4 separate regions of the Homo sapiens genome follow, and all the other regions are linked to region 1. The links come from fine-mapping of genetic effects on gene expression. A gene starts in region 1. Each other region holds a variant in brackets. All regions are shown on one strand. Distances are between the middles of the regions.

Evidence for each region. PIP is the estimated chance that this variant, and not a neighbour inherited with it, causes the effect.
Region 2: its variant is fine-mapped to the expression of TRPT1 in skeletal muscle (GTEx, PIP above 0.99).
Region 3: its variant is fine-mapped to the expression of TRPT1 in testis (GTEx, PIP 0.94).
Region 4: its variant is fine-mapped to the expression of TRPT1 in skeletal muscle (GTEx, PIP above 0.99).

What each region holds. Positions count from the first base shown.
Region 1 is chr11:64,224,892-64,227,519 of GRCh38, forward strand. It overlaps TRPT1 (tRNA phosphotransferase 1), which reads right to left and starts at 1,295. Exons shown (of 8, transcript NM_001033678.4): 1 at 1,159-1,295; 2 at 895-978; 3 at 608-689; 4 at 1-79. The coding sequence starts at 969. NUDT22 (nudix hydrolase 22) reads left to right here and starts at 1,383. Exons shown (of 6, transcript NM_032344.4): 1 at 1,383-1,536; 2 at 1,744-2,241. The coding sequence starts at 1,762. RefSeq lists enhancers at 1-18, 201-923, 1,524-2,043, 2,044-2,561 and a silencer at 1,089-1,498.
Region 2 is chr11:64,125,320-64,128,017 of GRCh38, forward strand. The region is part of intron 3 of MACROD1 (mono-ADP ribosylhydrolase 1); the gene reads right to left. Among named protein-coding and RNA genes, the nearest start is that of MACROD1, 39 kb to the right of the region's middle. The variant A/G (reference allele first, on the strand shown) is at 1,428.
Region 3 is chr11:64,814,148-64,816,845 of GRCh38, forward strand. No RefSeq gene overlaps it. Among named protein-coding and RNA genes, the nearest start is that of MEN1, 4.9 kb to the left of the region's middle. RefSeq lists an enhancer at 629-738. The variant C/T (reference allele first, on the strand shown) is at 1,090.
Region 4 is chr11:64,099,790-64,102,487 of GRCh38, forward strand. The region is part of intron 3 of MACROD1 (mono-ADP ribosylhydrolase 1); the gene reads right to left. All of the region lies in intron 1 of FLRT1 (fibronectin leucine rich transmembrane protein 1), which reads left to right. Among named protein-coding and RNA genes, the nearest start is that of MACROD1, 65 kb to the right of the region's middle. The variant C/A (reference allele first, on the strand shown) is at 1,276.

The DNA.
Region 1 (2,628 bases):
ACCACGCGCTGCACATCTTCAGCAGAGAAGCCGCGGAACTGGGGCAACTGCAGGAGGGTGCCCAGGGGCACGAAGCCATCTGTGGGCAGGCAGGGTGCTCAGGAGCTAACCTTGCTCTGGACTGGGCCAGGGTTAACAGGGAGCCACAGGCAACCGAAACAAAGTCTGGGCTTGGAGATCGCTTGGGCATCCTCTGTGGGACCTTTAGAAAGTCTCCCCTTTCTGGGCCGCAGTTTTTTCAACTTACATAAAAAGAGGATCTGCCTCACGGAGGGGCAGGGAGGTGAGTGCCCAGCATAGCGCTGGCCCGGAGTGCACACTCACACCACCAGCTGCACCGTATCCTCCAGGGCTCGCCCTCGGGGTAAGTGCTGATCTGGCTGCTTGGCTGGAGGGGGCGGTCACCAGGCCTGGCCCAGACAAGAACTCTCCTCAGTCTGCTGTGGACATGACAGGGGCTCTAGGCCTTGCTCTCCTCTGTGCATGGGGAGGAAGTGCACTCTGTGCCTTCCTCAGGGAGCGGTGGAGGCAGCCATCAGGGAGGAGTCGCAGACAGGCTCACGTTTCTCTCTGGGCTCAAGCCCCAGCCTCCAAGGCCCCTACTTACCAGCTCCCATGGGAAGCCCCAGCTTCAAGGCCCCATGGCGCAGGGCATAGGACAGAGCCTTGGACAGCTGCACGTCTCGGTCCTGAAAGAACCCAGCGGTGGCCCCTAGTCTCCATGGTGACCCTGCCCTACTGCCCATCCTGAACCCTCAATGACCCACTGCAGAGAGAGCCCAGAGAGAAAGGAGTGCCAGTGGTCTCCAGGAATAGTAGGACCCTTCAGCTCCGCCCCCCAGCAACTCCCAGGGAGCCTGGACTGGTGGGAGGGGGTGGGGAGGAGGCGCGCACCTGTTCTCGGGGTCTGGGAGCCCTTCTACCCCTGGACCCTGCTGCTTCCTGCCTCCCTCCTCCAGAGAAGTTCATGGTTAAGACCTGTGGGGGGCAGTGACGAGGGGGGACTGCTTTAAGGCCCCTTCCACGTCCCCATCCCTCCCAGAAAGTCACAAAGCCTCAGGAAGTGAGCGCTGGGTGGGAGTATACGGCTCATTAAGTTCACCACCCCCAAGTCCCTGCTGCAGAGAGGGAAACTAAGGCCCAGCAGGCCAGACTTGCCCAAGGTCACACGGTCAGCCAGGAGCGCAGGGAGGCCGAGCCCCGCACCCCAGATCGCTGGTGCGCCCCGCAGGGTGGTCCGGGAGGCAGGGCCGACGTGCCGACGGACCGGGCGGAAGCGTCGGGGCGGCGGGGACAAACCTCCAGGATCCTCGACCGCGGCGGACCCGCCAATGAAAAGCCGCGTGGAAAGGGGGCGGGCACTTCCGCTTCGGGGAAGGGGCGGAGCCTGAGGGACCCGGCGGCTGGTGAGCGCCCGCTGGAGGCTGGAGCTTCCGGGCCCTGGAAAGGGGTCCCCGCGCGCCCCGGGTCGGAGGCAGACCCCTGGGTTTGGGGGACATGGGCATTTGGGGCGCCTGAACCCAAGACCTCTGGATGGTAGGGATGCCCGGGCGTCCTGGATACCCTGCGGGACTCGGGGCTCCTGCGGGGAAGATGGCACGTTTTACTGCCCAAGGAGTGGTCAGGGGGGTGGAGAAGCGCTGCGGATACCCTCAGGAGGTCTGCGACAGAGGGGGCTAGCTGCGCAGCCCAGGAGTGGTAGTGGCCCCCCTGGATGACAGGCCTGGCCGTATCCTCCCCCAGAGCTGCCCCGTTCAGACCATGGATCCTGAGGTGACCTTGCTGCTGCAGTGCCCTGGCGGGGGCCTGCCCCAGGAGCAGATACAGGCCGAGCTGAGCCCCGCCCATGACCGTCGCCCACTGCCAGGTGGGGACGAGGCCATCACTGCCATCTGGGAGACCCGGCTAAAGGCCCAACCCTGGCTCTTCGACGCCCCCAAGTTCCGCCTGCACTCAGCCACCCTGGCGCCTATTGGCTCTCGGGGGCCACAGCTGCTCCTGCGCCTGGGCCTTACTTCCTACCGAGACTTCCTGGGCACCAACTGGTCCAGCTCAGCTGCCTGGCTGCGACAGCAGGGTGCCACCGACTGGGGTGACACGCAGGCCTATCTGGCGGACCCACTGGGGGTGGGCGCTGCACTAGCCACAGCCGATGACTTCCTTGTCTTCCTGCGCCGCTCCCGGCAGGTGGCTGAGGCCCCTGGGCTGGTGGACGTACCTGGTGGGCACCCTGAGCCTCAGGTGAGATTCCAGGCTGGGCACAAAGACCCAGACAGCTCAAGGGAGCTGCAGCTCTCCACCCTCCCAATCCTCCCAGCTTTGGTTTCCTCATTCCTTAAAGGGAAAATTGGCCTGGTATTTCTCTGGAAGTTTGCTCAGGGCAGTCCACCTGCCTCCCCACTGACCCCTGCCCCAGTCCTGTGAGAAACTAGAAAACACGGGAGGAAAGATTGGGCACAGGAAGAAGATGCCCTACTCCACCCCTGCCCCCTGTGTATCTCCTTTGAAGCTGGACCTCTGGTTGTCTGTCAGGGAAAGGACACCAGACTCAGGATCACTAACTCTCTTACACTGTGCCACATCAGACCCTCAAGGCCAGCAGGTATAGGCTTGCTGGTCCTGAGATGG
Region 2 (2,698 bases), 100 kb before region 1:
TCTTTGCTGCCACAGCCCTAAATCTCATCAAGGTAGATAGTCAGAGTCAGCACCTTGCCCTTCCCAGGGTCACTGGGGCCCAGCACAGTGCCTGGCACACAGGGGTACTCAATCCTTTCTCTGCCACCAACGGAACGAGGCCGCCTCCTCCTCTCACTTCCTCCCCAGTTGCCATCTGCCCACTCATTGAGGATGGCCCAGGCACGAGTGTTGGCAACAAACAGGCTTCTCTCGTCCTGCTCCTGCCCCGCCAGCAGCTGGCACAGAGAGGGGCTCATCTCAGCAGCTTTACCTCTTGGAAGCACCTCGCTCCACCCTGCCTTGGATCCACGTGTTGCCAGCTGTGAGCCAGATGGAGAAATGTAGCCACTCTGAGAGATCCGGTGGCTGCCCCAACCTGTGTCAGTAACTCAGTTTCCCTTCTCCAAGACTTGCCTTGAGTGGATGACAAGGGGGAGAGAACTGGGGGAGGGCCCCACAGAGGCGCTGCAAGAAATCCAGATCCCAGGCGACACCTGCTGCCTTGCCTGCTGCCCCCGCAGAATCCCTGCATCTGGAGCCACCCACCTGGAGGAACTCATCGGGCTTCCTCTGTAGACGGGAAAAAACAAACGCACCACAAACCGACAATCAAAGCCATGGCGGATGCGGGGCCGCCACCAGTTCATCTCCCTGGAGCCAGGCGGCTCCAGGCCTCTCTCACCTTTCTTGTGTGGAACGCAGGCTTGCAATGTTCTGAGCCCACCTGTCCTCGGGCTAGTCCCATTTTCAAAAGTTCTGAGTACGCAGGTGAGAAGACACCCCCACAAAACCCCAAAACTAGCCTTAGGCTGTTTTTCCCCAACACAACGCACCTCCACACCCCACACCGCCAGCAGCCCACCTGGGTACCCAAAGTGAGCCGCCAGGGGGTTCCGAGGACCCTGCCTGGTGCCTTCCAGCTCATAAGGAGAGGCCAAGAGCCATGGGGAGGAAGCCACACGGCCCAGCGCTCAGGGCTTGTCATCCAAGAGTGAGAGAAGTGGGGAGAGAGGTGACGGAGGGTGGAGTGGTGTGTGGCGTCGAAATAGGCTAGCCAGAGAGAGAGGTGCTTGTGGGATTCTGCTGGCTGGAGCCAGGAGGTAAGTGTGAACAGGGAGGCCAAAGATGAAAGTTATCTGAAAGAGCCCGTACCCCCTATAAACACGGCAGAGGAATGTCTTAAGAGCCACCAACAGTAATTCCCTTTCCGGATGTTAACAGGTTATTTGTATCTTATGTGGTGTCGTAAAGCATTCTGGAGTGGCACACAACGTCATCCCCTTCCCGGTGGTCTGAAGAGGAGGAGGAGACCAGGGAGGGGTCCTTGGCCAGCCCCTGGCGGCCAAGGGGTGGGTCCTTCTGCTCTATAGAAGGCAGGAAGCCCGCCAGCTAACCGCCCGGGTCAG[A/G]GGGAGCAGGCCTGATCTCTCCCAAGCCTGTGACCGAGGTCCTGCCTGATGTCCAAGGGGCCCCTGTGCCAGTACCCCCACTTCCCACGCCCCCCAGCCTTCCTCACCTCCAGAATCAGCCGCCCAGGTGCAGCACTATCTCCTTTCTTTTTCTTGGAAGCCGTCTCAGGGGCCTGAGTGACGGGCCTGACCGTCCCCGCTACCGCCTGCTGCCATGCGACCAGATGGCTGACCCGGCCCGGCTTCTCAGGGCCCAGACCAGCCTGGCCTCGTGCCCACCTGCTTCGCTCCCAACCTCACCACCAGGCAAGGGTTTCCAGAAAACCGAGACACGCAAACACCCACCACCACGACAACAACACAAACCAAAGTGCACTGCGAACCGCCCTTTGGCCTCCTTCTTGTAGGTGCCTTGAAACTTCAATGTTGAGATGAATGTGATTAACTACTTGGTCCTATTTTCTGTTTGTCTATTTTCATAGAAAATGTCCAAGTCCACTTGCCTTGTTCTTTCTTGAAATAAATAGAAAGATTTAACTTTTACGGTCATCTCTTGCTGCTGACTCTCGGCTTGGCACCCCATCGGGCCAGGGGCCAGGTGTCCGGGGCACACGTGGTCTCAGCGGCCCACCCCCTCCCCGGGCCTTGCCCCCGAGGCTCAGCCCACCCCCTCCCCGGACCTTGCCCCCGAGGCTCAGCCCACCCCTCCCCGGGCCTTGCCCCCGAGGGTCAGCTCTGTTCTTGGGGTGCCCTGGCTCGGAGGCGGTGACCCGGCAGGATGGAGACTGTTCCCTCCGGCACCATCCCAACCAAAATGATTCCGCTGCAGGAAGAAGGGCCCTCTGTCCCCACCCACAGGCCCCAGAGGTCTACTGACACCTGAGTCACCACAAGGGGACCCAGAGCTGAACCAGAGCTGAACGTAGACTCCGAGGGGTCTCTACATGGAGAAGTATGTGTCAGCAGGAGCTATGGGTTATCCTGGAAGAGGCTCCAGCAACCAAGTGGCTCCGGGGTAAAAGTGGGACTGTCCGGGTGTTTGGGGACATGAGCTTATGCCACCACCCCAGACGCCCCCCATCCCCTAGATGTACCCATTACACTCACAGCTCTGGAGCCTCATCTGCCTCTCTCACATCCCAAAGGGAGGGGGACAGGAAGGAACAAAATTTCCATGAGAACAATAGCAGTCTCTGCTAAATTTAACATAAAACAAGAACTCATTACTTCTGCCTGAGATCTGATTTCATGTCTGGATACAGTTAACGGGT
Region 3 (2,698 bases), 590 kb after region 1:
CCCAGTGGGTTACCATCTTCTCTCCAGATGTCTACCGGGTTCCCCACCTTCACAATATTGCTCAAACGTCACCTCAAAAAGGCTGACACAGACCTGACCATTCTACTTCAAATCACACCCTCCACTCGAAATTCCTCTATCCATCCCTCAACCCTGCTTTATATATTTTTTTTCTTTTTGTTTTGTTTTTCTGAAACGGAGTCTCACCCTGTCACACAGGCTGGAGTGCAGTGGCTCGACCTTGGCTCACCGCAACCTCTGCCTCCCAGGTTCAAGCAATTCTCCTGCCTCGGCCTCTTCAGGTGCACTTCAGGTGCACGCCACCACACCTGGCTAATTTTTGTGTTTTTTTGGAGAGATGGGGTTTTGCCATGTTGGCCAGGCTGGTCTCAAACTCCTGACCTCAGGTGATCCGCCCACTTCAGCCTCCCTAAGTGCTGGGATTACAGGCATGAGCCACCGCGGCCAGCCCGCTCTACGTTTTTTTTGTTGTTGTTGTTGTTGTTTGTTTGTTTGCTTTGTTAGCATTAACACCTTCTAGACAGGGGCTCTGGAAGGAGGCACTGTTGACGCTTGAGGTCGGGTAATTCTGTGACTGGGGCTGTCCTGTGCATTGTAGGATGACGAGCAGCATCTGTGGTTTCTACCCACTGGATGCCACCAGTTCAGCTCCCGCAGTGGGGACAACTAAAGATGTCTCCAGATGTTGCCAAATGTCCCCTGGGATGCCAAAATAGCCCCAGCTTGAGAACCACTATTCTAACATATGATATGACCACTTTGTTTCTCTGTTTTGAGACAGGTCTCGCTCTGTTGCCCAGGCTGGTGTGCAGTAGTGCAACCATGGCTCACTGCAGCTTTGACCTCCTGGGCTCAAGGTGGTCCTTCCACTTCAGCCTCCGAAGTGCTGGGATTACAGGAATGAGTCACCATGCCTGGCCTGATTTATTTATTGTTTGTCCCCTACCACCAGAAGATAAGCTCTACAGGACAGGAAATGTGTCTGCCGTGTTCACTGATGTGTCCCCTGGGCCTAGAATAGTGTCTGGCACATAATAGGTGTTCAACAAATATTTGCTAAAGAATACA[C/T]GCATGCATGCAAAGCAGTAGGGTTTTTGTTTGTTTTTATTTTTCTATTGTTTTTTTATTTTTATTTTTATTTTTTTTGAGATGGAGTCTCCCTCTGTCTCCCAGGCTGCAGTGCAGTGGCACAATCTCAGCTCACTGCAACCTCCACCTCCCGGATTCATGTGATTCTCCTGCCTCAGCCTCCCGAGTATCTGGAATTACAGGTGCCCGCCACCATGCCCGGCTAATTTTTGTATTTTTAGTAGAGACAGGGCTTTGCCATGTTGGCCAGGGTGGTCTCAAACTCCTGACTTCAGGTGATCCATCTGCCTCGGCCTCCCAAAGTGTTGGGATTACAGGCATGAGCCATTGCACCTGGCCAAAGCAGTCATGATTAATGATTGACCTGGAATGTAGGCTGTGTGAGGAGGCATGTAAGGACAAGAGAAGGGTGACAGACAGCAAATGTGTAGTAATATCAATGGATTGCAGGTTTCTGTGGGGTCAACCGTCAATTCGAGTTGGGGTGCTAGAGTGGGCTGGAAAGAGAGTGGTGTTGGTTAGAGAGTAGGATGCTTGGCCAGGGGCAGTGGCTCACACCTGTAATCCCAGCACTTAACTGAGGCGGTTGAAAAATTAGCCGGGGGTGGTGGTGGGCGCCTGTAATCCCAGCTACTCGGGAAGCTGAGGCAGGAGAATCGCTTGAACCCGGGAGGCGGAGGTTGCAGTGAGCTGAGATCGTTCCACTGCACTCCAGCCTGGGTGACAGAACGAGACTCTGTCTCAAAAAAAAAAAAAAAAAAAGAGAGAGTAGGATGCTTGAGATTGAAATTATGGGGAGGGGGTTGTCATTATTGGCAAAGAAAAGATCTAGAGCAGAGCTTTCAACAGAAATATAACATGAGCCACAATACGATTTTGGCATTTCTAGCAGCTACTTTTTTTTTTTTTTGAGACACAGTCTCACTCTGTCGCCCAGGCTGGAGTGCATTGGCACGATCTTGGCTCACTACAACCTCCGCCTCCTGGGTTCAAGCAATTCTGCCTCAGCCTCCTGAGTAGCTGGGATTATAGGTGTGTGCCACCATGCCCAGCTAATTTAAGTAGCTACATTTTTAAAAGTAAGAAGCCGGGCACAGTGGCTCATGCCTGTAATCCCAGCACTTTGGGAAGCTGAGGCAAGAGGATCGTTTGAGTCCTGGAGTTCAAGACCAGGCTGGGCAATATAGTGAAACCCTGTCTCTAACAACCCCAAAAGTTAGCCAAGTGCTCACACCTGTGGTCCCGATTACTCAGGTCAGGAGGCTGAGACTGGAGGACCACTTGAGCCCAGGAGCTGGAGGCTGCAGTGATGCAGTGAGCCATGATCACGCCACTGCACTGAAGCCTGGGCAACAGAGTGAGACCCTGTCTTCAAAAAGATAAAAATAAAAATAAAAGAAGACAGAGGTGGAATTAATTTTAATCCTATATCTTGTTTAACCCAATATATCTGAAAATGCGATTTCAATTTGTAATAAATATAAAAATTATTGGGGCAGGCGCAGTGGCTCATGCCTGTAATCCCAGCACTTTGGGAGGCCGAGGTGGGCGGATCACGAGGTCAGGAGATCGAGACCATCCTGGCTAG
Region 4 (2,698 bases), 130 kb before region 1:
GAGAAGGAAGGATGGACGGATGGAGAGGTGAATGGATAGATGGATGGATGGATGGATGAATGAATAGAGAAATGGTGAGATGGAGGGATCGAGAAATGGAGGGAGAGATGGAAGGATGGAGGGATGGATGGATGGAGGGGTGCACAAGAGAGCCTCAGGAGAAGCCCAGGACCCCTCAGTGCAGTGTTTGGTGGATGGTCCGTTTCTCTTGCGCTGTCTTGGAGTAGTGCAGCAAGAAGGAAACTGGCCTGGAGTTTGAGGCCCTGACACTGCTACAGGTTGTATAACCCTGCACAAGTCCTGCTCCCTCTTCTCAGTCCACACAATGAAAGTGGTCCTCCCTGACCTGCTAGCCATGCTGTCTTCCCAAGCTCAGGGAAGATGGCAAGGCAGAAATTACTGGGAAAGGACAAGGTGCATTGTCCCCTGGCATATATGTATGGGCAGATTCGGCCAAAACGCAGAGGGTGGTGCAGAGATGTGAGATTGGGCACTTGGCTTTCTTTCCCTCCTTTCAAATTTCTTTTAATACAGTTGTGATGTGATTGACGACAACAAAAGTAGAAAATTGTGTAAGCATCTCAAAGTACTTTTACTCAAAATGGAAGCTTTTATGATGTTGACTCAAAAAATGGTTTATTGGTTTTGAGCACAGAGACCAGACCTGGAGCCTGTGGGAACGGGGGAGGCCAAGGCGAGGAGTGTAACCACTAACTTCACACGGCATGGTCTCCACTCACTCGAGCCAGAAGGGTGGCCACTGGGGGTGCTGTGGCTCTGGCGGGAGGTGTCTGCCAGGCGCACGCATTTACATATTTATTCTTGGGCCTCCTTTGGTTCAGTGAATGCAGGTGGCTACTAATGATCATCATTATGCGCCCACACAAGGGAAGAGCCACAGTGCTGCTGGAGAGCTCACACCTCCCAACCACTGCCAGCCAGACTCACTTGGAAAACCAATACACACCCCAGAAGCCTGAGAGGCCCCACTTATCCAGGGCACAGACGCTGAGGAGCCCAGTATCCCAGCACTGGGGTTCCAGGAGGCTCTGCAGGCCCCAGGGAAGGTGGGGGTGGGGGCTGCAGCAGGGAAGGTGGACTGAGGACATACAAAGCTGGACGGGCACCAAGAGCCTCACTTAGTGCCTTGGTTTTCTAAATGAGGGAGCAGATGGAGAGTTTGGTGGGTGCATTTATTAAGCACCAACTGCATGCAAGGCACTGAGCCAGGTGCTGGGGGATCCAGCCTCAGGTCCTCCCTTGAAGCCAGGGAGA[C/A]AATTCTTTTCATGCTCCGTTGTTGCTGTCATGGTTCACAGGACCACACAAGCCAAGCAGAGGGTGGCCCATTGCAGGGAGGGAGGGATGACGTCTGCATGGATTCTTACAGAAGGGGAACAGTACAGTGAAGGGCCAGGCTGGAGCCAGCTCAGGGCATTAGTGGGCAGTAGTGGGAGACACGGCTGGTGGGCTGGGCAGGGCCCTTGGAGACTACTGTAGGAGCACTGCCTCTATCCTGAGAGCTATGGGACGCTCTCAGGATAAAGCCGAGAAGCTATGGGAAGGGTCTGAGGTGAACACACCAGTGGGATGAACCTGCCTCCTTTTTGGGTTCTTAATTTCAAAAGCAGAGCTCAGTGGTTTCTCTCTTTATCGGGAGGCAGCGGCCACAGCTGACTGGAGCCTCTGGGCTCCCAGGACACGGCAATCATCCTCTCAAAATGCCAAGGCCCGCTGCCCCTGCCCCACCCCCATCGGTATAAAACAATTTCTGCGCCCCGGCCAGGGAGGCGGATGACCTCACTGGACTTTTTCCATCTCTCGCTTTCATGGAGAAATTACAATTTATAATTGGATGAAATCACGCGGGTGGTAATAGCAATAAGGGCTCGTGCTAGAGCCGGCCGCCCTCCCGCCGCGTGCAGGGACTCTGTCCTCATCTTCCCTCCTGCGTAAGCCCCACCGTACCCCTTCCAGGGCCTGTGCCCCACCTGTAGTATTCACCAGGCACTGGCCATTCAGAATCGATGTCCCGTGGGGCTTGCTGGCTCTGAAACCTCCTTCTTCCTAGGGCAGCTTGTCCCAAGAAAACTCCCCCTGCCACCCTGTCCACCCCATCAGACTCAGCCTGCACACCACCTGGCTGGCACACACCCTTCCCAAATGCCTTCCCTGCCAGGCTGTGAGCCCCGTGGGCAGCCACCCCCCATCTGGGTGCTGGGCTTATTAAAACATGAACCCTAATATCCCTGTTTTTATTTGTAACGGCCTCTGACAACAAGCATTTCTCAAATCAGCCACCTTAGGCCCTACAAAGAAAAGTGCCCAGATGCAGCTGAGCCCATCTGGATCTGATTTCAAACCAGAGTGAGCACTCTCAGATGTGTAATAAAAGCCCTTTTCCAAAGAGGGGTTCCTGCAGGGGGAATACAGACACCAGGGCGCCGCGGCCCTTCCACATGCCGCACTAATGAGAGGTGCTGGGGAGGGCTCGGGGTTTTGTTTTGGATTCCAGAACAGCCTGCCCTGCCCTCCGTCTGTGTGGAAGAGGAGGGCGGCTGCGGGTGTTGAGGACTGACCCCCCACCTAGGAAGTGGGGTGGGCACCAGACAGAGGCCAGAAACACGGAGACCCAACTTCCCCAGTTCCCTGATGGTCCTGCTTCCCATGGTGGGGAAAGGCAGTGCTTGTTCTGGAAGCC